4 linked regions of the Homo sapiens genome follow. The protein of the gene in region 1 purifies or fractionates together with the protein of each later gene. This does not show direct contact. Each region holds a gene or a part of one and is shown on either strand. Other genes may lie near its edges. The genes, in order: RASA2, ZMYM1, WDR70 and SH3PXD2B.

The links.
Region 2: the proteins of RASA2 (region 1) and ZMYM1 purify together in Homo sapiens (affinity purification with mass spectrometry; one large-scale study listed by BioGRID and IntAct). This does not show direct contact.
Region 3: the proteins of RASA2 (region 1) and WDR70 purify together in Homo sapiens (affinity purification with mass spectrometry; one large-scale study listed by BioGRID and IntAct). This does not show direct contact.
Region 4: the proteins of RASA2 (region 1) and SH3PXD2B purify together in Homo sapiens (affinity purification with mass spectrometry; one large-scale study listed by BioGRID and IntAct). This does not show direct contact.

The regions. Positions count from the first base shown.
Region 1 is NC_000003.12:141,484,773-141,490,604, forward strand, and holds the start of RASA2 (ras GTPase-activating protein 2), read left to right. Parts: upstream 1-2,254; 5' UTR 2,255-2,311; coding exon 2,312-2,444; intron 2,445-5,832. UniProt on the Homo sapiens protein: Inhibitory regulator of the Ras-cyclic AMP pathway. Binds inositol tetrakisphosphate (IP4).
Region 2 is NC_000001.11:35,084,973-35,090,204, forward strand, and holds part of ZMYM1 (zinc finger MYM-type protein 1), read left to right. Parts: intron 1-3,776; exon of another isoform or gene 3,777-4,187; coding exon of another isoform or gene 4,188-4,203; intron 4,204-5,232.
Region 3 is NC_000005.10:37,377,308-37,383,095, forward strand, and holds the start of WDR70 (WD repeat-containing protein 70), read left to right. Parts: upstream 1-2,010; 5' UTR 2,011-2,060; coding exon 2,061-2,085; intron 2,086-2,181; coding exon 2,182-2,247; intron 2,248-4,294; coding exon 4,295-4,378; intron 4,379-5,788.
Region 4 is NC_000005.10:172,342,514-172,347,745, reverse strand, and holds part of SH3PXD2B (SH3 and PX domain-containing protein 2B), read left to right. Parts: intron 1-413; coding exon 414-463; intron 464-1,484; coding exon 1,485-1,610; intron 1,611-5,232. UniProt on the Homo sapiens protein: Adapter protein involved in invadopodia and podosome formation and extracellular matrix degradation. Binds matrix metalloproteinases (ADAMs), NADPH oxidases (NOXs) and phosphoinositides.

The sequences.
Region 1 (5,832 bases):
ATTACCTGTAGTGTGCTCTTGCTAGCTGGCTGAAGGGATAAATGAAGCCACTGATGTCCTCTTGAGCAGGCAACTGATAAGCTCCATTTTTTTTGTTAGGAAAGTTAATTTAAGTGGTATGTAGGAGGAATGAGAGGGATGGGGGACTTATTACCAGAGTTCCAGTCAAAAGCATGAGGTCAGTTACTGAGGTAATCCTACTACGTGCTCAGCATTCCACTAGACACTTAACACCCTGCTCCCAATACTTATTTAATCTTAATAACAACCCTTCAAAGAAGAAAGTTTAGCATTTCCACTTTACTGTTAAAGAAACAGGTTCAACCGGGCGCAGTGGCTTACACCCAGCACTTTGGGAGGCTGACGCGGATGGATCACTTGAGCCCAGAAGTTCAAGACCAGCCTGGGCAACATGGCAAAACCCCATCTCTACCAAAAATACAAAAATTAACTGGACATGGTGGCGCGCACCTGTAGTCCCAGCTACTTAGGAGGCTGACATGGGAGGATAGCTTGAGCCCAGGAAGTTGAAGCTGCAGTGAGCTGAGATCGTGCCACTGCACTCCAGCCTAGGCAACAGAGCAAGACTGTCAAAAAAAAAAAGAAAGAAAGAAAGAGAAGAAACAGAAACAGGTTTAGGAAGGTTGAGTAACTTGCCCAAATGTAAAAGGGGTAGAAACAGGCTCTATGTCTGATTCTAAAAAGGGATGCCTTTAAAAATAAGGGGGAAAAAACCCTGTAACACGTTGATACTCTTTAAATGAGAATAATTTTAACAAGGGCAATGACAGAGAATGGAAAGGAAGGAAGAGATTTCAGCAGAGTCAGAAGGATGTGGCAACTGAAAACAGCATTGGGACAAGGGATAAGAAAAAGTCAAAGTTTCTGGCCTGAGTAACAGTATAAGATGTGAACTCAGATTTGGAAAGGGAGACAGGAAATTAAGTTTTGGACTTATGTTTGAAATGACAGCAAAACATTCATATAAGAGGAAGTGGTTCACTTTATCCAACAAGTGTAAAGATCACATGGGGAAATAGAAGTCACCTGCAACACAGGCAGAACTGGAAGCTTCGCTGGCCAGGTCCATGTTAAACTCTGACCATTCTCTGGGGCTGTCCAGCCTTTGCACAGGCGGCGCGTTTGTCTTCAGTTTTCAGGTTTCCCCGTCCTATTTCTTATCTCCCAGTGCCTCTGGCCTTTTCTGTGTCTCCCTCCAGAATGAGCTGGAGCTCTCTTCATCTTGACCTTTGTGTAGTCTCTGAGGTCTGAGGCCATCACTATGTCTGACCCTCAAAAAATATTTGTTGACTGACTGGCTTATTCCTGTTGTTGCCCTGGAAAAGAATTACCCTGCCCGATTAAGTCACAGTTTCTTCCTTCTTAGGGCAGCGTAGTTAACAACCTCAACACCAGGAAATTGTCTTCCTCATCACATACCAGGGTATTATTCATGCAGTTTACTCACTGTAAAGAGTTCCCTTGAAATAAAGCTAACAATTAGTCAAAGATTTACACATTTCCTAGGGTCAGTCAACTTTTTAACAAAGCCAACTTTTAGTAGTGGTGGCGGTGGCGGGGGGGAGCCCTTCTTTGCTTTTTCTGTTCCTGAAATACAAAAGTGATGGTAAATGCTTCAGAATTTCTCTATGAGAGGGTCTCAGGCACTGCACTCACGCTGGAGTTGGGGGTGGCTGGTCCTTTTCTTGAACCAGGTTTTGCAGAGAATTGGTCCTAGTAAAGAGTATTTGTGTGGGAGGAGTTTGGCTTGCTGGCGGGGAGTATTTGGATAATACTGGAAGAGCCTCAAATGCATCTCTTGCCTCCTTTTGAATAAGATACTTTTGAGGTCCACCCACCTGCCAAATTCCATTCTATTTTCTTCCCACAGGGAGTTTCCCTGATTGGGAAGGGCCTGTATTTCCCGCGAGCGTTAGGAGATGTGCAGGTCTATTCATTGGGGGAGCCCAATTCCCGGGAGGATTTAGGGATCACGGGAGGGCCGGGGCGTTCTCCTGGTGGGGATTTTAAGGCCGCTCAGAGCCACGACTGGGAGCTACCCTTAGCCAGCGCCCCAAGCCGGGAGTACGGTTCTCTGCAGGGTAGCCCGGCTCGGGGGTGGCGAAGGCGGTGAATGGAGACCCGGGGGGGGCGGGGGCGGGGCCGCGGCGGGCGGGGCGGGGCGGGGCGAGTCGGGCCGAGGCCCGGGGGCGGGGCCAGGCGCGCGGCTGGCCTGGGCCTAGGCCGCTGCTGGGCTCCGCCTCGCCCGGCTACGCAGGCGGCAGGGCTGCGGCACGGGCCGGGCGGCACCATGGCGGCGGCGGCGCCTGCTGCTGCGGCGGCTTCTTCCGAGGCGCCAGCGGCGAGTGCGACTGCAGAGCCCGAGGCCGGGGACCAGGACAGTCGCGAGGTTCGAGTGTTGCAGAGCCTGCGGGGCAAGATCTGTAAGCGGGGGCTGGGCTGAGGGGACGCCCTGGCGGCGCTGGGCGCGAGGCTGAGGGGGCGGCGGGTTCGCGGCGGTGGCGGCGCCGAGCTGCGCTGGGATCGCGGGCCCGGGAGGGGGCCTGGGCCGGGCGCGGTTGAGGCTGGAAGGGGGTGTGTTGGGGGGCGGCGTCGCCTCGACGGGGCGGCGTGGGCCGGGGCTGCTGCTCTCCGGAGGGAGTGGGAGCTGGAGATGGGCCTGGGGTGGGAGAGCCCGGGCTGCGCCGGCGTGAGGGGCTCGGTCGTGGGGAGCGGCCTGGACGCGGGGACGCTGGAGTCCGGGGCGCGGCCGGGGGCGCGGTCCGGGGGCGTGAGGAGCTTCCGGCCGCCCTCAGACTCAGGCCTTCGCGCGGCTGCGGGCGCTGGGGAGTGGCCCCGCGGTGGGAGCCGAGCAGTAATTATACGGAGGCGCGGCCCGAGGAGGTGGCGGGCTGGGAAGTGGGGCTGGCCCGAGGGGAGGGGGCTGTTCGTTTCCTGGGCTCGGCGAGCCTGGGAGAGGTTGAAAAAGGCGCCCTGAGCTGCAGGAAACGGGCCGCCCTGGGGCCCGAGTGGCTACCGCGCGGTCTGTTCGCGGGTGAGCGCCCCGGGAGGAGCTCGGCGGGACACCTGTACTTGCCCCACCTCGCTGCGGCCGGGACTTGAATCGAGGGACGGCGTGACAGGCGGGACTAAAGGCAGGATGTAGTGGCTTCCTGTGAGCAGGTCTCAAAACACAATCACCCAGCCCGCACTCAGCCCGCTTAATTCCCTTCCTTCTCATGCGTGTAATTGCTACTTTAGTGAGCGAGCCTACCAGTTGACTAAATACGAAATTTTGCTCAGAGTTGTCCGAGCATTACTGTGGACAGATTATTTGAGTTCTGTCATTTGAACATTTTAGTTTTAAAAACGACCCTTTGGTGTCAGGTTGCCATTTTTTTTTTCACAGTGGTTTATTTAGATGAAGTGCTTTTTGTTTTCTGTTTGTAAGAGAGATCAATAACATTTATTTTTGCATTTGTCGAAAATTAGCATTATTTTCTTCATGCAGTATTCTCAGATTGGAAACATGCTTCATGTTTCTTATAAATAACCCTCAATTATGAGGGCGTACTTTTCACTTTGAAGAAAATTGACTTGCATTAAAGTGGCTAACAATTCTTTCCTGGGCAGGATGTAAAATTTTCCTCTCCTCTAATACCAGTACTGTTGAGCTCACATTCTCCCACTTTTCCTCTTTTCAGGTGGTTCACGTATTTGGGATTTTATGAAACCTCAGAAGCAGACATGTTAACTTTTCTTATCTTTTTATTCCCTGAGGTAGTCCTGGGGCTCTTAAGAGATTACAGTTCTTAAAACCTGGAAAGTGACACCAGAGAGGTAGATCTTAGTTCCCAAAATTAAAGTTACTTTCTAGGGCATAAAACCTTTTCAGAATTCAGATTAAATTTTATTTATTTTTTCTTTTTTCTGTAACCTTATATTTGAGGGGAAAATTTTGTTTTCAACTTTTGCATATATCTAATTTAACATTTGGGAAAACTGTAAATGGGCCAAAGTTTCTCCCTTTATATGATTTTCCAGATTTTTACCACTTTCTTAGTGCCACTTGATGCTAGGCATTGTCTATTGGAGACTCACTGGTACGTAACTGCAGGTTTTACCATGGAACTACATATACACATGTCTTGGAATTGAGGGTTAGGGTTTCCAGAAGGACTTAGTTGTCCTGTGCTTTTGTCTGCCCCATGCCAAAGACCACTAAGAACAGTTTTGTAAGTGAAACTTGGGTCTACACGTTAAAAAAAAGAAAAACAAAAAACCACTTTGTTTCTATGGTTTAAAGCAACCCTGGCTTGGAAATTGATCATCCAGCTGCTGGGAATGATATTACTGCTTTAACCACAGTTGAAGTATTCTATCTGTTATCCTAGTCAGTTTCTTGCTTTTTAAATTGCTTATCTTATAGCTCAGGTTATGGAGTGTCTGCTTTCTAGAAAAAAAAAATGTATTTGTATACTTATATACAGAAGCTCTCTTCCCATTTCTTTGTCCTCCTTTTAAATGATGTAATCCACAGTTGGTTGACATTCAGAACCTTGTGAAGAGATGCTGTTTTCTGTTTCCCTGAAACTAACATGTGGGTTTTGTAGGGTGGGGACTGAGGGGTTGGAAGAGTCATTAGCAGGTGTCAAGGTCACAGAAATGAGATGGTGGTGGTTCTGACAAGATATTAAGCAGCTTGGGGAGGGTGTAACCGTGTCAGCTTTTCTCTTCACCACAGTAGGAAACCTTGGAAGAAAGCCTGATAGTGCCCACTAGGAGATGTGCTGGCAGATTTTATACTACTGATTGAGAGCCTCTTTTCTGGAGAGTTAGAGATCTGTAGGGGCTGAAAATTAGCCTGAAGAAATTTTCTTATTTCTGGACTTGCATAGGACTTTTAAACTGCACATCACCCCAGTGAAAAGTGAGGATGGATTGGTTTATGTATCTTGAATGTTCAAGAGATAATAGTCCATAACCTTCTTTAGGGATTTCATTCCTGTAATTATTTCCCCTTATACTTCACAAGGTGAAATATCTGTCAGTTGGACAGATATTTGTCTATTGGACAAGAGGAAACTTAACAAAAAGTGGTAACCAAAAAGGTGGAGGTCACAAAATAACAACATGAGACCTCAATATATATAAAGGATGAAGCCCCAATACCCCTTTTTTGCTTGAGTGTACTTTTTTTTTTTTTTTTGCCGGGGGGCTGGGGAGGAGGGAAGAAGGGACATGCAAATATGTTTCAGGTGTTTTATATGCGCTCAAACGAACCCAGGGAATTCGAGATCCATCTATAAGACAAAATATTGTCAGCAACCCTGGATTTGCTGCAGTTTGCGCTAGGAAACCATGACAGTTCTGAATTGTCTGCTTCCTTAAACTTTTTCAAGAGGTGAGTTTGGTTGTTTGATATCCTAAGGTTGTCATATGAACCCTTGATAAAGGAAATTAGGGGTGTACTCGACTCCATTCTTCGGTCTGCACTCCTGTGTAGCGAGTAGCAAGTATGCTAGAACACCTGAAACACATTTGCATGCTCCCTCCTCCCCTCAAAAAAAAAAAAAAAAAAAAAACCGTATTCAAACAGAAAAGAGGGATTGGGGCTTCCTCCTTTATGTATCTTCAGGCTTCATGCTGTTATTTGGTGACCTCCTTTTTGATTAGCACTTGTTAAGTTTCCTCTTATCCAATTACATTAGATTGTAAAAATGTTGCGGAGAGCACCCATGCCACCATATGTGTGGGCTTATCTACTCAAGGAATACCAGATCAATAAGAGAGCCAAATGGGAAAATTTTGTGTGAATTTTCAGATGTGTGG
Region 2 (5,232 bases), on another chromosome or scaffold:
TAATTCCAGTGAAAGGATTTAGTATGCTAAAGGCTACTCTGTTATGCCTGGATTTATCCGTTTTTTGTTTTGTTTTGGTTTGGTTTTTTTTTGGAGACAGAGTCTCGCTCTGTCGCCCAGGCTGGAGTGCAGTGGCACTGTCTCAGCTCACTGCAAGCTCCGCCTCCTGGGTTCACGCCCTTCTCCTGCCTCAGCCTCCGAAGTAGCTGGGACTACAGGTGCCCACTACCACGCCTGGCTAATTTTTTGTATTTTTAGTAGAGACAGGGTTTCACCGTGTTAGCCAGGATGATCTCGATCTCCTGACCTTGTGATCCACCCGCCTCGGCCTCCTAAAGTGCTGGGATTACAGGCGTGAGCCACCGCGCCCGGCCCCCATATTATTTTTACTTCATGCTAGTCTGTTAAAATCTGGAGCTCAGTTGGTTTCCAAACTGCATAGGATCTGATTAGGCAGAAATGACTTTGGCAGGAAGGAAAGCAGTATGAGGACAAGTAAAGTGAGGAGGTTAAGGTGCAGCTGATTCTTTGCCTTGACATCTGTCTCCCTTTCCCTCTGGCCCAAAGAGGAGGATAGTGTTTTCTCCTGTGGTTGTTGTAGATCTCCCTTTGGCTGCAGCTGTCCTTTCCTGACCCTGAAACCACCTCCATGACTACATTCCAGCTTCAGGGACAATAGCCTCCTTCCTTGAACAGTCATTCCTAGAGCTCTCTTGGGCCTGCCCTTTCTTGCCTTTGGTGTGGCACATGCCAGCCACCTAGCTCTAATAGGGAATTATTGTTGTTAAATCAGTATTCTGTACCCCTCATTCCCAGCCTAGTTTTGAAATGTACTTGTGGTTGGAGTGCTAGGTTCACACTGGCCCCTAGCATTTGTGGGGTCCTTGCTAAGAGTATGAATGGAAGCCCACATACTCTGTGTCTAAATATTTAAAAGTTATAAATTAAGCTAACACATCGTGGAATAAAATGAGTTCCATCCTCCTGCCGTGACAAATACACCTTTGTAATGACCAAATAGAAAAACACGTGTAAAGCTGTGGTTTTCAGGACTGAAAGTAAGCAAATTTTCAATGATGACAGAATTCAATTTTATGTATTACGTTTAAACATTGTATTTGGGTTACTCATGGTAAATTGTTATCACAGAAAATATTGAAGATTTGAATTTCATTATATAAATCACTGTCATTCATAATGTGGCTTTTTAAAATCATTTCTTCAAGTCATATTTATATTCATACAGAATTTTAAGGTTTTTTCCCAAAATTTTCAATATATACAGAATTTTAAGGTTTTTTCCCAAAATTTTCAATATTGGGTTATTAGTTTATTTTATTTATTTATTCTGAGATGGAATCTTACTCTGTCACACAGGCTGGAGTGTGGTGGCGCAATCATATCTCACTGCAACCTCTGCCTCCCAGGTTCAGGTGATCCTCCTGCCTCAGCCTCCTGAGTAGCTGGGACTACAGTCTGGGCTATTTATAAAAAGCAGAAAATGACTGTTTGTTGCTAAATTTGTTCAACTCTGTCTCCAATCAAGATTGTAACTTAATCTGTAGCAGTAAAAAAAATAGTCTCTATATAAATTAGTTTTGAGATTATATGTCTGTGAATCTTATTCATCGTCATGCAGTTTCCTTTCATTATTGTAACTGCCTTATATTTCATTGAAATCTCATGCAATTTTTTTTTCAATTAAAAAATTCTTTTTTTTTCTTTTGAGATGCAGTTTCGCACTGTCACCCAGGCTTGAGCGACAGTGAGCTTGATCTCAGCTCACTACATCCTCCACCTCCTGGGTTTAAGCAATTCTCTGCCTCAGCCTCCCGAGTAGCAGGGATTACAGGCGCCCACCACCACGCTTGGCTAATTTTTTTTGTATTTTTAGTAGAAACAGGGTTTCACCATCTTGGCCAGGCTGATTTTGAACTCCTGACCCTGTGATCCACCCACCTCAGCCTCCCAAAGTGCTGGGATTACAGGCATGAGCCACCGCACCCAGCCTTTTTTTTTTTTTTTTTTTTTTTTTTGAGATGGAGTCTTGCTCTGTCGTACCCAGGCTGGAGTGCAGTGGCACGATCTCCACTCACAGCAGCCTCCATCTCCCAGGTCAAGAGATTCTCCTGTCTCAGCCTCCCAAGAGCTGGAACTACAGGTGTGTGCCACCACACCTGACTAATTTTTTGAATTTTGAGTAGAGATGGGGTTTTACCATGTTGGCCAGGCTAGTCTCGAACTCCTGACTTCAGGTAATCTGCCTGCCTCAGGCTCCCAAAGTGCTGGGATTACAGAGGTGAGCCACTGTGCCCGCCCAAAAATTCATTTTTTAACAGTAGTTTGAACCATCAGGGTTATATAAATACTATTGTACTAATTTTCCAGGAGGAATCTGGATGATATCCCCTGGAGGTCTATATGTGTATCTGGAAATAACTCTTGAAACTTGCATTTTCTTTTTTTTTTTTGAGATGGAGTTTCGCTCTTCTTGCCCAGGCTGGAGTGCAATGGCGCAGTCTCAGTTCACTGCAACCTCTGCCTCCTGGGTGCAAGTGATTCTCTTGCCTCAGCCTCCCAAATAACTGGGATTACAGGCATGCCCCACCACGCTCGGCTAATTTTTTGTATTTTTAGTAGAGACAGGGTTTCTCCATGTTGGTCAGGCTGGTCTCGAACTCCCAACCTCAGGTGATCAGCCCGCGTTGGCCTCCCAAAGTTCTGGGATTACAGGCGTGAGCCACCACGCCTGGCCTCGAAACTTGCAGTTTCTTTGTGATCTCGTGTTTTACTTTAAGAATGAATATGGGCCGAGGGCAGTGGCTCATGCCTGTAATCCCAGCACTTTGGGAGGCTGAGGCCGGTGGATCATGAGGTCAGTAGTTCAAGACCAGCCTGGCCAAGATGGTGAAACCCGATCTCTACTAAAAATACAAAACTTAGCCAGGCATGCTGGCTGGTGCCTATAATCCCAGCTACTCAGGAGGCTGAGGCAGATAATTGGTTGAACCTGGGAGGCGGAGGTTGCAGTGAGCTGAGATTATGTCACTGCACTCCAGCCTGGGTGACAGAGAGAGATTCCATCTCAAGAAAAAAAAATGAATGTGAATTTTGTTGTCTGCTCTTATCATATTTCTCTCTTTGGTTTAAATTAAAATATTTTATGGCTGGGCGCGGTGGCTCACACCTGTAATCCCAACACTTTGGGTGGCCGAGGCAGGCGGATCACAAGGTCAGGTGATCGAGACCATCCTGGCCAACATGGTGAAAACCCGTCTCTACTAAAAATACAAAAATTAGCTGAGCTTGGTAGCACGTGCCTGTAATCCCAGCTACACAGGATGCTCAGGCAGGAGAATCGCTTGAACCCGGGAGGTGGAGGTTGCAGTGAGCCGTGATCGTACCGCTGCACTCCAGCATGGGCAACAGAGTGAGACTCCATCTCAAAAATGTGTTTATGTGTATATATATATATATATATATGTGTGTGTGTGTGTGTGTGTGTGTGTGTGTGTGTGTGTGTGTGTGTATGTACATATATGTATATATATTTTATATTACTACCAAGTAGTATTGCCCAGCAGGAAGATGTGCAACATTCATCCTTTGACTATTAATACCTGTACTCTTTCATACTATGATTTAGCCCTAGTTTGGAAAGATGAGTAGGGCTATATTAAAAGAAAGTCTGTAGGACTTATTTTACTCTAATGTGCATCTTGTTGGAAAAGGAAGTAATGGATCTGTCACTAATACATGTTTTGCTCTTCTTATAGCCAAACAAATGTTGCATAGCATTTTCCCTTGCCTCAGAAATTTTCAGGATGCTTTCCTTTTTTTTTTTTTTTTTTGTTTTTGAGACAGAGTCTCACACTCTTGCCTGAGCTGGAGTGCAATGGCATGATCTCGGCTCACTGCAACCTCTGCCTCCCAGATTCAAGCAATTCTACTGTCTCAGCCTTCCGAGTAGCTGGGATTACAGGCGCCCACCACCACGCCCGGCTAATTTTTTGTATTTTTTAGTGGAGATGGGGTTTCACTGTGTTGGCCAGGCTGGTCTTGAACTCCCGACCTCCTCATCCACCCACCTCAGCCTCCCAGAGCGCAGGGATTTCAGGCATGAGCCACTGCGCCCAGCCTCCACTATTTTTATGTTTGTATGGTGACACATTTGAAGGAGTTGCAAGATGCCAAAGCTCATAGGTACTTTGTTTTGTTTTATCTTACGAATAACAATAATTGTACCTCACGTAAACCTCATTGGCTGTGATACCGCCACTGCACAAAACTCGGTGCTTTGTTTTTAATTGATGTTTAAGACTTGCATGGCATGTGTACTTTCAGGTGAAGGGAATCTACCTAATGACAAATAGTTAATTTTTAGTGAGTTTTGCTTTACTGTTTGTGTATAATGCTCAAATGGGCTGGACAGAGGCTGTATGAGCTATTTATTGCACTTGACTCTCAGGCCTTATTTAACTTTCTGCATTGGGATAGGAACTTTCAACAAAAGCTGAGCTAAAGATGGAAATGAGGGAAGGTGGTTGAGCCCCAATCACAGAAATAAAAAATAATGGCAGAATTACTTGGGTCTTTCATGTACTAACCCAGAATAAAACCATAGTCCTGGAATTACTCCTGTAAGAGGTTTTTTGTTATTTTTTTCTTTTTTTGAGCCCATTATTCTAAGTGATCCTGTAACAACTTCAACTTCTCCACATTTGTGTTAGTTATCATCTGCCCTCCATAATGATTAGTTGTAAGGCTTTTTTTTTTTTTTTTTTTTTTTTTGAGATGGAGTCTTGTTCTGTCACCCAGACTGGAGTGCAGTGGCATGATCTTGGTTCACTGCAAGGTCTGCCTCCCAGGTTCACGCCATTCTCCTGCCTCAGCCTCCCGAGTAGCTGGGACTACAGGTGCCCGATATAAGGCTCTTTTTTTTTTTTTTTTGAGACAGAGTCTCGCTCTGTCGCCCAGGCTGGAGTGTAGTGGCGCGATCTCGGCTCACTGCAAGCTCCGCCTCCCGGGCTCATGCCATTCTCCTGCCTCAGCCTCCCAGAGTAGCTGGGACTACAGACACCTGCCACCACGCCCGGCTAATTTTTTTGTATTTTTAGTAGAGATGGGGTTTCACCATGTTAGCCAGGATGGCCTCGATCTCCTGACCTCGTGATCCACCCACCTCGGCCTCCCCAAGTGCTGGGATTACAGGCGTGAGCCACCGAGCCTGGC
Region 3 (5,788 bases), on another chromosome or scaffold:
GCCTGTAATCCTAGCACTTAGGGAGGCTGAGGCGGGTGGATCGCTTGAGCTCAGGAGTTCAAGACCAGCATGGGCAACATGATGAAACCCTATCTCTACAAAAAATACAAAAATTAGGCCGGGCACAGTGGCTCACGTCTGTAATCCCAGCACTTTGGGAGGCTGAGGCGGGCATATCACTTGAGGTCAGGAGTTTGAGACCAGCCTGGCCAACATGGTGAAACTCTGTCTCTACTAAGAATGCAAAAATTAGCCAGGGGTGGTGGCAGGGCCTGTAATCCCAGCTACTCGCAAGGCTGTGGCAGAATTGCTTGAACCCAGGAGGCGGAGGTTGCAGTGAGCTGAGATCGCGCCACTGCACTCCAGTCTGGGCAATGGAGCGAGACTCTGTCTCAAAAAAAAAAAAAAAAGTCGGGTGTGGTGGCGGTCACATGTAATCCCAGCTACTTAGGAGGCTGAGGCACAAGAATCGCTTGAACCCAGGAGGTGGAGGTTCATTGAGCCGAGATTGTGCCACTGCATTCCAGCCTGGGTGACAGAGTGAGATTCTGTCTCAAAAAGAAAGAGATTCTTCTCCACCTTCTAAACGTTAAAGTGTTGAACTCCCACATTCTGTTTAAGAAGGACAATCCTGAGCACACGATTAGCCTTGTAAACTTTAGACTGACAGGCCAGGTGCAGTGGCTCACGCCTTTAATCGCAGAACTTTGGGAGGCTGAGGTGGGCAGATCACAAGGTCAGGAGATTGAGACCATCCTGGCTAACACGGTGTAAACCCTGCCTCTACTAAAAATAGAAAAAATTAGCTGGGCGTGGTGGCGGGTGCCTGTAGTCTCAAATACTAAATAGCCGGGCATGGTGGCGCACACCTGTAGTCCCAGCTGCTCGGGAGGCTGAGGCAAGAGAATCGCTTGAACCTGGGAGGCAGAGGTTGCAGTCAGCTGAGATCACGCCACTGCACTCCAGCCAAGGCAACAGAGGGAGACTCAGTCAACAACAACAACAACAACAACAAAAAGGCAGAGCGCGGTGGCACGGGGCCTGTAATCCCAGCACTTTGGGAGGCCAAGGTGGGCAGATCACCTGAGGTCAGGAGTTCAAGACCAGCCTGGCCAACATAGCAAAACCCCGTCTCTACTAAATACACAAAAATTAGCCGGGTGTGGTGGCAGGCGCCTGTAATCCCAGCTACTCAGGACACTGAGGCAAGAGAAGAGCTTGAACCTGGGTGGCAGAGGTTGCAGTGAGCCGAGATCACGCCATTGCACTCCAGCCTGGGCAACAGAGTGAGACTCTGCCTCAAAAAAAAAAAAAAAAAAAAAAAAAGCAAAGGGTGTCGCCTGTAATCCCAGCACTTTGGGAGGCCGAGGCAGGCGGATCACTTGAGGCCAGGAGTTCGAAACCAGCCTGGCCAACATGGCAAAACGTCGTGTCTACTAAAAATACAAAAAATTAGCTGCGCGTGGTGGTGGACGCCTGTAATCCCAGCTACTTGGGAGGCTGAGACAGGAGAATCGCTTGAACCCGGGAGGCGGAGGTTGCAGTGAGCCGAGATCACGCCATTGCACTCCAGCCTGGGCGACAGAGGCTCCGTCTCAAAACAAAAACAAAAACAAAAAAAAAACAAACCAAAACAAAAAACCAAAAATTAGCCGGCACCTGTAATCCCAGCTACTCGGGAGGCTGAGGCAGGAGAATCGCTTGATCCCGGGAGGCAGAGGTTGCAGTCAGCTGAGATTACGCCACTGTACTGCAGCCTGGGCGACAGAGGCTCTGGCTTAAAAAAAAAAAAAAAAAAAGGGAAAGGATGTTATAGAAACTCCAGATACTACTTCTCCCCTCCAGTGGTCTGAGTTGCGCGGCGCTTTCCCGCCTGTCCGGTAGGGCGGTGCCGCGCAGAAAGCCGCGGTCCCTCTGCGGAAGGCGCCGCTCTTGGCTTCGGCGGCGCCGCTGTAGCTTGAAGGCGGTACTTCCTCCAGCATTTGCCGCAAGTTATTGGCAAGTTCCCCTGCAGTTGTTTGGGCTGTCCCTGTGGCTGGTTCTGGGGTGTGCGGCCAGCCATGGAGCGCTCTGGGCCCAGCGAAGGTGGGTTTCATGAGGCGAGTCCGGGCGGGGTGGGCCGTGTCGGGGGAGCTGGGGCGCCGCACTAACTAGGCCGCCTCTCTTTTCCTCTTGCTCCAGTGACAGGCTCAGACGCGTCGGGACCGGACCCGCAGCTTGCGGTCACCATGGGCTTCACGGGGTTCGGTGAGTGACTGCCCCAGGCAGAGACCCTCTTCCTTGTGCAGAGGTTTGAAGATCCGCAGAGTGGGAGTGGAGATCGAGCTGTCAACTCGGAATTATTGTAGCTCGGGTGCATACCTTGCAGTTTGTCAATATTCTTCTCCCATTTGTCTTCTATTCTGCGTTATCCGTTGGAACCAACTCAGATGACAGTTATGAGAGTCTGGAGAGAGAGGAAGAGAAAGGATTTTTCTAATTTTAAGTCACCAATAATGCTAAAATGAACATTTTTGTAAATAACAGCATTTGTACGAGGATTTTTAAAAATACGTAATTCGGTAGGGTAGATTTCTAAAAGAGAGTGTAGTTTATTCAGAAATATAAATACTTAAAAAGCTGAAAAATTGGGTATGTGCCTTTTAAAGCTTCTTGATGCTTATTGCCGTAATACCCATCAAAAAACTTGTTCCAGGTTATACCAAAGTTAACAGAATTAAGAATGCCATTTTTACCATATCCCTACCAACACAGAGTAGGTATTATTATTTAAAAAGAAAATTATTTAAAAAATGAAAACAAAACTTAGTAGACTGATACATGAAAAATGATTTCTCTTTATTTTCCATTTTAAAATTATAAATGCTGTTCATCCAAACATTGGGATTCTAACTTCCCTGAACCTTTTCTCAAGGTCTTCTTGTTTTCTTTTGACCAGCGTGTATTAATTCTATGATAGTAATTAAACAGTAGACTTACACATATTGGCCTTGGGTTGTGTTCACACATACTAGTTCTGTAGTTTCTCTATTCATTCTTTTTTTTTTTGGAGACGGAGTCTCGCTCAGTCGCCCAGGCTGGAGTGCGGTGGCAAGATCTCGGCTCACTGCAATCTCTGCCTCCCGGATTCACGCCATTCTCCGGTCTCAGCCTCCCGAGTAGCTGGGACTACAGGCGCCCGCCACCTCGCCCGGCTGATTTTTTTTTTGTATTTTTAGTAGAGACAGGGTTTCACCGTGTTAGCCAGGATGATCTCGATCTCCTGACCTCGTGATCCGCCCGTCTCGGCCTCCGAAAGTGCTGGGATTACAGGCGTGAGCCACTGTGCCCAGCCTTTTCTATTCTTTTTTTATTTTTTGAGATGGAGTCTCGCTCTGTCACCCAGGCTGGAGTGTACTAGTGCGATCTTCGCTCATTGCAGCCTCCTCCTCCCAGGCTTAAGCCATCCTCCCACCTTAGTCTCCTGAGTAGCTGGGACCACAGATGTGTGCCACCACACCTGGCTAATTTTTTATACTTTTGGTAGAGACGAGGTTTCACCATGTTGCCCAGGCTGATCAATCTCCTGAGCTCAAGCAGTCCGCCCACCTGAGCCTCTCAAAGTGATTACAGGCATGAGCCACCCCACCCGGTATAAATCCTTCATTTTAGTACATCATTCCTTTACTCAGGAGTGAGAAAGTTGTCCATATGTTTGTGCCAAATAGGGGAAAATTTTAAGAGTTTTGATAAAGTTACTGGGGGAGGAGGAGAATGTTTCCATGCTCATCCAGTTCCTTGTTAGAGGGCTGAGATTTCTGTTTCCCTCTTAGCTCCTTAAAGTACCTGCATTACTTCTCATGTTGCCCCTTTCGTCTTCAAGCCAACTATAATGCCTCAAATTCTTCTCAGACATTGGATCTCTCTGACTTCTTCTGCCATAGCTGTTCTGCATCTTTGCCTTTAAGGGCCAAATAGGATAGTTTCCCTATTTAAAAGTCCATAACCTTAATTATATTGCAAAGGGTAACTTTTGGGGCATTCTCCATTTTGCCTCCCCACATCAGTGTTGTTGTTTCATAGGGTAGGGATCTAGAGGAGGATGGGAAAGTTGCCTGGTTAATAGTACTTAGTGAAGGGATTGTCAGCAGAAGTTTTCTGTGACTCAAACTCCTTCTTCTGTGATATATTATGGTTATATTGGAGCCATGCTATAAACTAGACAAAGTAAGTGTTTATTGATCAGTATTGATCACCTAAAGTTTGGCCAACTTACTGCAAGACAATCACAGTCTCCCATTTGTTCATGTTTTAGGTAAAAAAGCTCGCACATTTGACTTGGAAGCAATGTTTGAACAAACTCGAAGGACAGCTGTGGAAAGAAGTCGCAAAACACTGGGTAAGAAGCTCAGATATTTGTTCTTTTATTGGTTTAAGTACTATGTATACCTCATGCAAGTATATTAAAAAAGAGAAAAGAATGTTGGCTGGGCGCGGTGGCTCATGCCTGTAATCCCAGCACTTAGGGAGGCCAAGGCGGGCAGATCACCTGAGGTCAGAAGTTTGAGACCAGCCTGGCCAACATGGTGAAACCCCATCTCAACTAAAAATACAATAATTAGCTGGGCATGGTGCAGGGGCCTGTAATCCCAGCTAGTCGTGAGGCTGAGGCAGTGGCTTCAGTTGAAGTCGGGAGGCAGAGGTTGCAGTGAGCTGATATACCCCCATTGCACTCCAGCTTGGGGGACAAGAGTGAAATTCCATCTCAGAGAACAAAGAGAGAAAAGAATGTTGTTATGCTACTTATCACTGTTGTTTTTTTTTTTTTTTGAGATGGAGTCTCGCCCTGTTGCCCAGGCTGGAGTGCAATGGCATGATCTCGGCTCACTGCAGCCTCCACCTCCCCGGTTCAAGCGATTCTCCTGCCTCTGCCTCCCGAGTAGCTGGGACTATAGGCACATGCCACCACGCCCAGCTAATTTTTTGTATTTTTAGTAGAGATGGGGTTTCACTGTGTTGGCCAGGCTAGTTTCGAACTCCTGACCTTGTGATCTGCCTACCTTGGCCTCCCAAAGTGCTGGGATTACAGACGTGAACCACTGTGCCCCGCTTTTTGTTTTTTTGTTTTGTTTTGTTTTGTTTTTGAGATGGAGTCTCGCTTTATTGCTGGGCTGGAGTGCAGGGGTGCGATCTTAGCTCACTGCAACTTCTACCTCCCCGGTTCAAGCAATTTTCCTGCCTCAGCCCCCCAGGTAGCTGGGACTACAGGTGTACGCCACCACGCCCAGCTAATTTTTGTATTTTTAGTAGAGATGGGGTTTCACCATGTTAGCCAGGATGGTCTTGATCTCTTGATCTTGTGATCTGCCTGCCTCCTAAAGTGCTGGGATTACAGGTGTGAGCCACCGCACCCGGCCCAATTTATCATTTTAAGACCAACAATGGGCCAGGTGTAATGGCTCATGCCTGTAATCCCAGCACTTTGGGAGGCTGAGGCAGGTGAATCACGTAAGGTCAGGAGTTCGTGACCAGCCTGGCCAACATGGTGAAACCCCGTCTTGACTGAAAATAGAAAAACTATCTGGGTGTGGTGTTGGGCCCCTGTAATCCCAGCTAGTAGGGAGGGTGAGGCAGGAGAATCGCTTGAACCTGGGAGGCAGAGGTTGTGGTGAGCTGAGATCGCACCATTGCACTCCAGCCTGGGCGACAAAAGCAAAACTCCATCTCAAAATAAAAAAAATAAAATAAAATAAAATGGGCGACAAGAGCAAAACTCCATCTTAAAATAAAATAAGATAAAATAAAATAT
Region 4 (5,232 bases), on another chromosome or scaffold:
CACATTATGCCAGTTCTACAGATGAGGGCCTTGTGGCTCAGAGAATCCAATCATCTGTCCAATGCCAGCAGCTGTGAGCCTCAGAGCTGGATTGGGACCCATCTCTGTGTTATTCTGAAGACTTTGCTTTTTGCCCTTTCTGGAGAATTTCCATGACTTGAGGATCCAGCACCATCCCCTTTCATTCCTGTGTAGAAAAGATGCAAGAAAAGCTACGTCGAGAGAGTCCTGAGCCAACTATGAGCCACGCGTGAGCAGCTCCTTCCTGCCCAGGCTGTTCTCACAGGGAGGGTTGCAGCAGCATGCAGACGCCTGTGTTCAATCTTCTGCAGGAGAAAATAGACCCGACCTGGCACCCAGCTCAGGAATCTCATCTGTAGCACAAGATGTAATAAGCTCTCATTTCTCCATAGGATCACCAAAGATGAGGCAGAGACCCCCTCCTCGCCGGGACATGACCATTGTAAGTGGATCCTCGCTACTGGGGAGTGGCCACTGACTTGAGGGCTGTGAGGGGTGTCCACTAGCCCCTCACACACCCCTCGCCCTTCCAGAAATGCTCTCTTTCCTGTCCACACAACAGCCTTGTGAAGCAGGCTGTAGAAATGCTAGTCCCACTCGCAGGTGGAAAGACGGAGGTGCAGGCAGGTGAAACAGTTTGCCCGCGGGGCCAGAGTGCTCCTGTGACAGTTGGGCCTCAGGACCTGCCTTCTGCTCCCTGGGCCCTTCTCTTGGTCTTAGATCAGTCTTCTCAGGCGACTTGAGGCCCAAGCTGAGATGAGACACAAATATCATCTGTGGTCCCATTCTGATATTCTGCGCTCATAATCCATTATGTAAAATTCTCTAGGTACCTTTTTAGCCAATACTTTGAACCCAATGGGTTGTTGTTGGGTTTTGGGGTTTTTTTTATTTGTTTGCATTGGTTTTTGAGACGGGGTCTTGCTCTTTTGGGGTTGTATTTTTTTAATGTCTGCTATTTATCAAGCACCTGTTGCGTGCCATGCAGCGTGCCGATTGCCTCACAACATTAACTAATTTAATACTTGAAGCAACCCCACCAGGTAGACACTGTTATGCCCACTCTGCAGGAGAGAAAACTGAGGCTCCAGAAGGGGGTGATTTGCCCAAGGACACTCCCACCATCAGTGTTTCCAACCCAGATAGATCTACTAATAAACTTAAGCTCCCTCCACAACCCTCACTGCCTCTTATTTCAGAGAATATTGTCTTGCTCCAAATTCTCATGATTGTACCCAAATGTCCCGTGTTTCTTCCCATCACCCTAAAGCTGATGGGCCAGTGAGGTCTCACCGAGGAGTGACAAACTGCGTGGTCCTATTTGTGTTGTCCCTTAGAATCCAACTAGGTCCCCAGCACCCCCTTAAGGGTGATTGCATGCCCCAGGCCCTTAGACTCCCCCTGACACAGGGTCGCAGGAGTGCACTTAGCCTTGGAGATAACCCTGTGTGTGATCGTACCAGCCTCGAGGCCTCAACCTGCCGAAGCCGCCCATCCCGCCCCAAGTGGAGGAAGAGTATTACACCATCGCCGAATTCCAGACAACCATCCCAGACGGCATCAGCTTCCAGGCAGGCCTGAAGGTCGAGGTGAGTGGCCCTGGTGTTCCTTTGCCTACTTGTGATTCCTGATTCCAGGCATCACCTCCTACTTCTCCCCTGTCACCTCCTACTTCACTGGGTGGGTGGAGGTGGGGCGGAGATTAACAGCTTTATGGTTCACATACCATACAGTTTACAATTTTAAGTGTAAAATTCAGCGGCTTATGATATTCACAGGGTTGCACAACCCTCACCACTGTCTAATTCCAGAACAAAAAGAAACTCCTTACCCATCAACAGCCACCCTCCATTTCCCCTCAACTTGCCAGCCCCTAGGCAGCCACCAATCCACTTTCTGTCCCCATAGATGTGCCTGTTTTAGACATTTCATATAGATGAAATCCCACAGTATGTGGTCTTGTGTGACTGGCTGTATGCCTTTCTTTACCACCTCCCACCTCCGTTCTTGCTTCTCCTCTCTCCTTTTCTTCCCACTCTCTCTGTTTGTCTACTTTGTTCCCCAGATTCTCTTCCTGCATTTCTCTTTCCTTTCCTCATGGGGTTAGAGCTTCAAGATATTTCTTTCTCATATTTGCAAGAAAACCTGTAAGTAAGGGGATGGCAGCTAGGGCCAGGGTTTGGAAACCTTTGGCAAAGATGGTTCTTGAGACACTTTCAAAAGCAGGTGAGCCAATCACAGGTATCACCAAATTCACTCTGTCATGTGTAAGAGTTGGTCAGACCCTCCCCACCTCACCTTGGGAGGCCAAGGTTCAATTTATTCATCTCTGCAACAAATAAAATGCTCCTGGATCTCCTACTATGGTTGTGTGTGGCGGCTGCTTTTCTAGGCCCTGAAGAGTTGTCGTCACCATCCTCTTTCCTTTAAAGAACACAGCTCTGGTCCCTGGCACAGAGCACTGTCTGATGGCACAGGGCAGTAGACACCATTGATCAGTTCACTCCAGCATACCTCTTTAGGGCCCCTCCCTTCCTTCCTGGCTATATTCCAGGAAGGACTATAGCCTGCCTGCCTGCACGCCTTCATTCCTTCCTTCCCTCCTTCCTTCCCTTCTTCCTTCCCTCCTTCTTTCCTTCCCTCCCTCCTTCCTTCCTCCTTCCTCCTTCCTTTGTTTTCCTTCCCTTCTTCCTTTCCTCCCTCCTTTCCCTCCTTCTCTCTTTCCTCCCTCCTTCCTCCTTCTTTCTTTCTCTCCCTCCTTCCTTCCTTTCCTCCATCCTCCTTCCTGCCTTTCTTCCATCCTCCTCCTTCCTTTTCCCTTACTCCAGCTTGCCAGCAGCTCCACCAGGCACAACATCTGGCCCAGGCCTTGCTGTGTACTACAGTCGAGAGGCTAGTTCTGCATCCTCTGGCCCCTGCTTCCAGAGGCATTGAAGTATCTTCATGTTTCACTAGAAGGAAATCCTTTTGTGTTTTCACTTTGCTATTATCTGAGTGAAGGGCTAAAGGGATGAGATTTGGGAAAATTCTGAATTGTGTTTTAATCCATTATAGAAAAATCTGCCCCTTCATACTCTTTCATTGTATACACATGTATTGAGTGCCTCCTTTTTTTTTTTTTTTTTTTTTTTTTTTTGACAGAGCCTCGCTCCTCTGTTGCCCAGGCTGGAGTGCAATGGCTCAATCTCAGCTCACTGCAACCTCCGCCTCCCAGGTTCAAGTGATTCTCCTGCCTCAGCCTCTCTAGTAACTGGGATTACAGGCGCCCAACATGACGCCCGGCTGATTTTTGTATTTTTAGTAGAAACAGGGTTTTGCCATGTTGGCCAGGCTGGTCTCGAACTCCTGACCTCAGGTGATCTGCCCACCTCGGCCTCCCAAAGTTCTGGCATTACAGGCGTGAGCCACTGCACCTGGCTAGATGTTGTTTTCTTATGATAGATCCATATGCTCTGTTTTTCTCTTCTCCAGTTTTGCTTCCTGGCTCATTGCAACATTATCTTAGCCTTCAAAATTCATTAATGGAACCACAGCATTCTAGCAGTAGGGCTACCAGTAACACCTTAGTTACTTGTCTAGGCTGTTTATCTTCAGGATGTGTTATGATAATGATGATGATGATGATGATGATGATATAGGCACCTCTTCTGTGTCAGGTACCTTACCTCCTTGATAACTGATCTTCACAGAAGTCCCAAGAGGTCAAAATACCAGCATCATAGGGTTGGTTGGTTAGTTTGTTTTTCTTTTTTTTTTTTCTATCAGCATGTTTTATAGATGAGACTCAGGGGGGTTAGGTAAATTATTTGCCTCTAGTAACACAGCTAGTAAGCAATGGAGTTGTGAAACCAGGTCTTTCTGGTTTTAAAGCCCACACTCTTTTCTTTCCCCTCATTCTTGTGATCTTTTTTTTTTTCTTTGAGACGGAATCTTGCTCTGTCACCCAGGCTAGAGTGTAATGGCATGATCTTGGCTCGCTGCAACCTCCACGTCCTAGGTTCAGACAATTCTCTTGCCTCAGCCTCCCAAGTAGCTGGGATTACAGGCGCCTGCCATCACACCTGGCTAATTTTTTTTTGTATTTTTAGTAGAGACGGGGTTTCACCGTGTTGGCCAGGCTAGTCTCGAACTCCTGACCTCAGGTGATCCGCCCGCCTAAGCCTCCCAAAGCGGTGGAATTGCAGGCGTGAGCCACCGCACCCGGCTTCTGATCTTGCATTTGCTTTTATTCCTAGTAGTTCTTGGCTTCCCTCTAGTAAATGAAAACGCCCATTCCTCATGGTTCAGAACACACATGTTCAGAGCTTCTACCACAATACTTTGCAAAGAGTGTAAGCTTGACAAATCTTACTGATACATCTAATATTGATTACCCTATTTTCAGTTCCTCACATACAGACTTAAGTATTAGTGTTGTTGAATTCATGGATGTGCTGACGATGACTCGTATGCCCAGTGTGGCCTGTAATTTTTACCAGAGCTATCAAGCGTTGATAAGATGCCAGTCATCCTCACATAAACAGCTTACATTTATCAGTGGCCTTTCCTGGAGATTCCAGTGGGACTCATTAAGTGCTGCCTGTCAAGTGCATCCCGCTGGCTCAGTGACCTCCACTCTAATTTAATCGCAGCAGCATTATTTACCAAGTGCTGTTGTATGCATTAGCTCTTGCGGCTGCAAAAATTCTACAAGTGGGTGTTAAATTGTTCTTACCATTTTCCTTCTGTGATGTGGAATCTGAGGCACGTGGCTTGCCCCAGGCCACTCAGGCAGTAAGTGGCAGAGCCAAGACTAGAACCCAGGACTGCAGGCCCAGGAGCCCAGCATTTGCGTCCTGGCGCTGAGTCTGTGGCTGCCATCCCTCTCCCAGAAGGGCCACAAAGTACCCGCAGCCATCTTTGCTCCTTCTGCAATTTCTTACCCCGGACACAGCCCTTCTCCAAGCAGGGTCTTTTTTTTTTTCGAGACAGAGTCTTGCTCTGTCGCCCAGGCTGGAGTGCAATGGCACGATCTCGGCTCACTGCAACCTCTGCCTCCCAGGTTCAAGCGTTTCTCCTGCCTCAGCCTCCCGCGTAGCTGGGATTACAGGCGCATGCCACCACACCCAGCTAATTTTTTGTATTTTTCGTAGACGCAGGGTTTCACCATGTTGGCCAGGCTGGTCTCAAACTCCTGACCCAGGTGATCCGCCCGCCTTGGCCTCCCAAAGT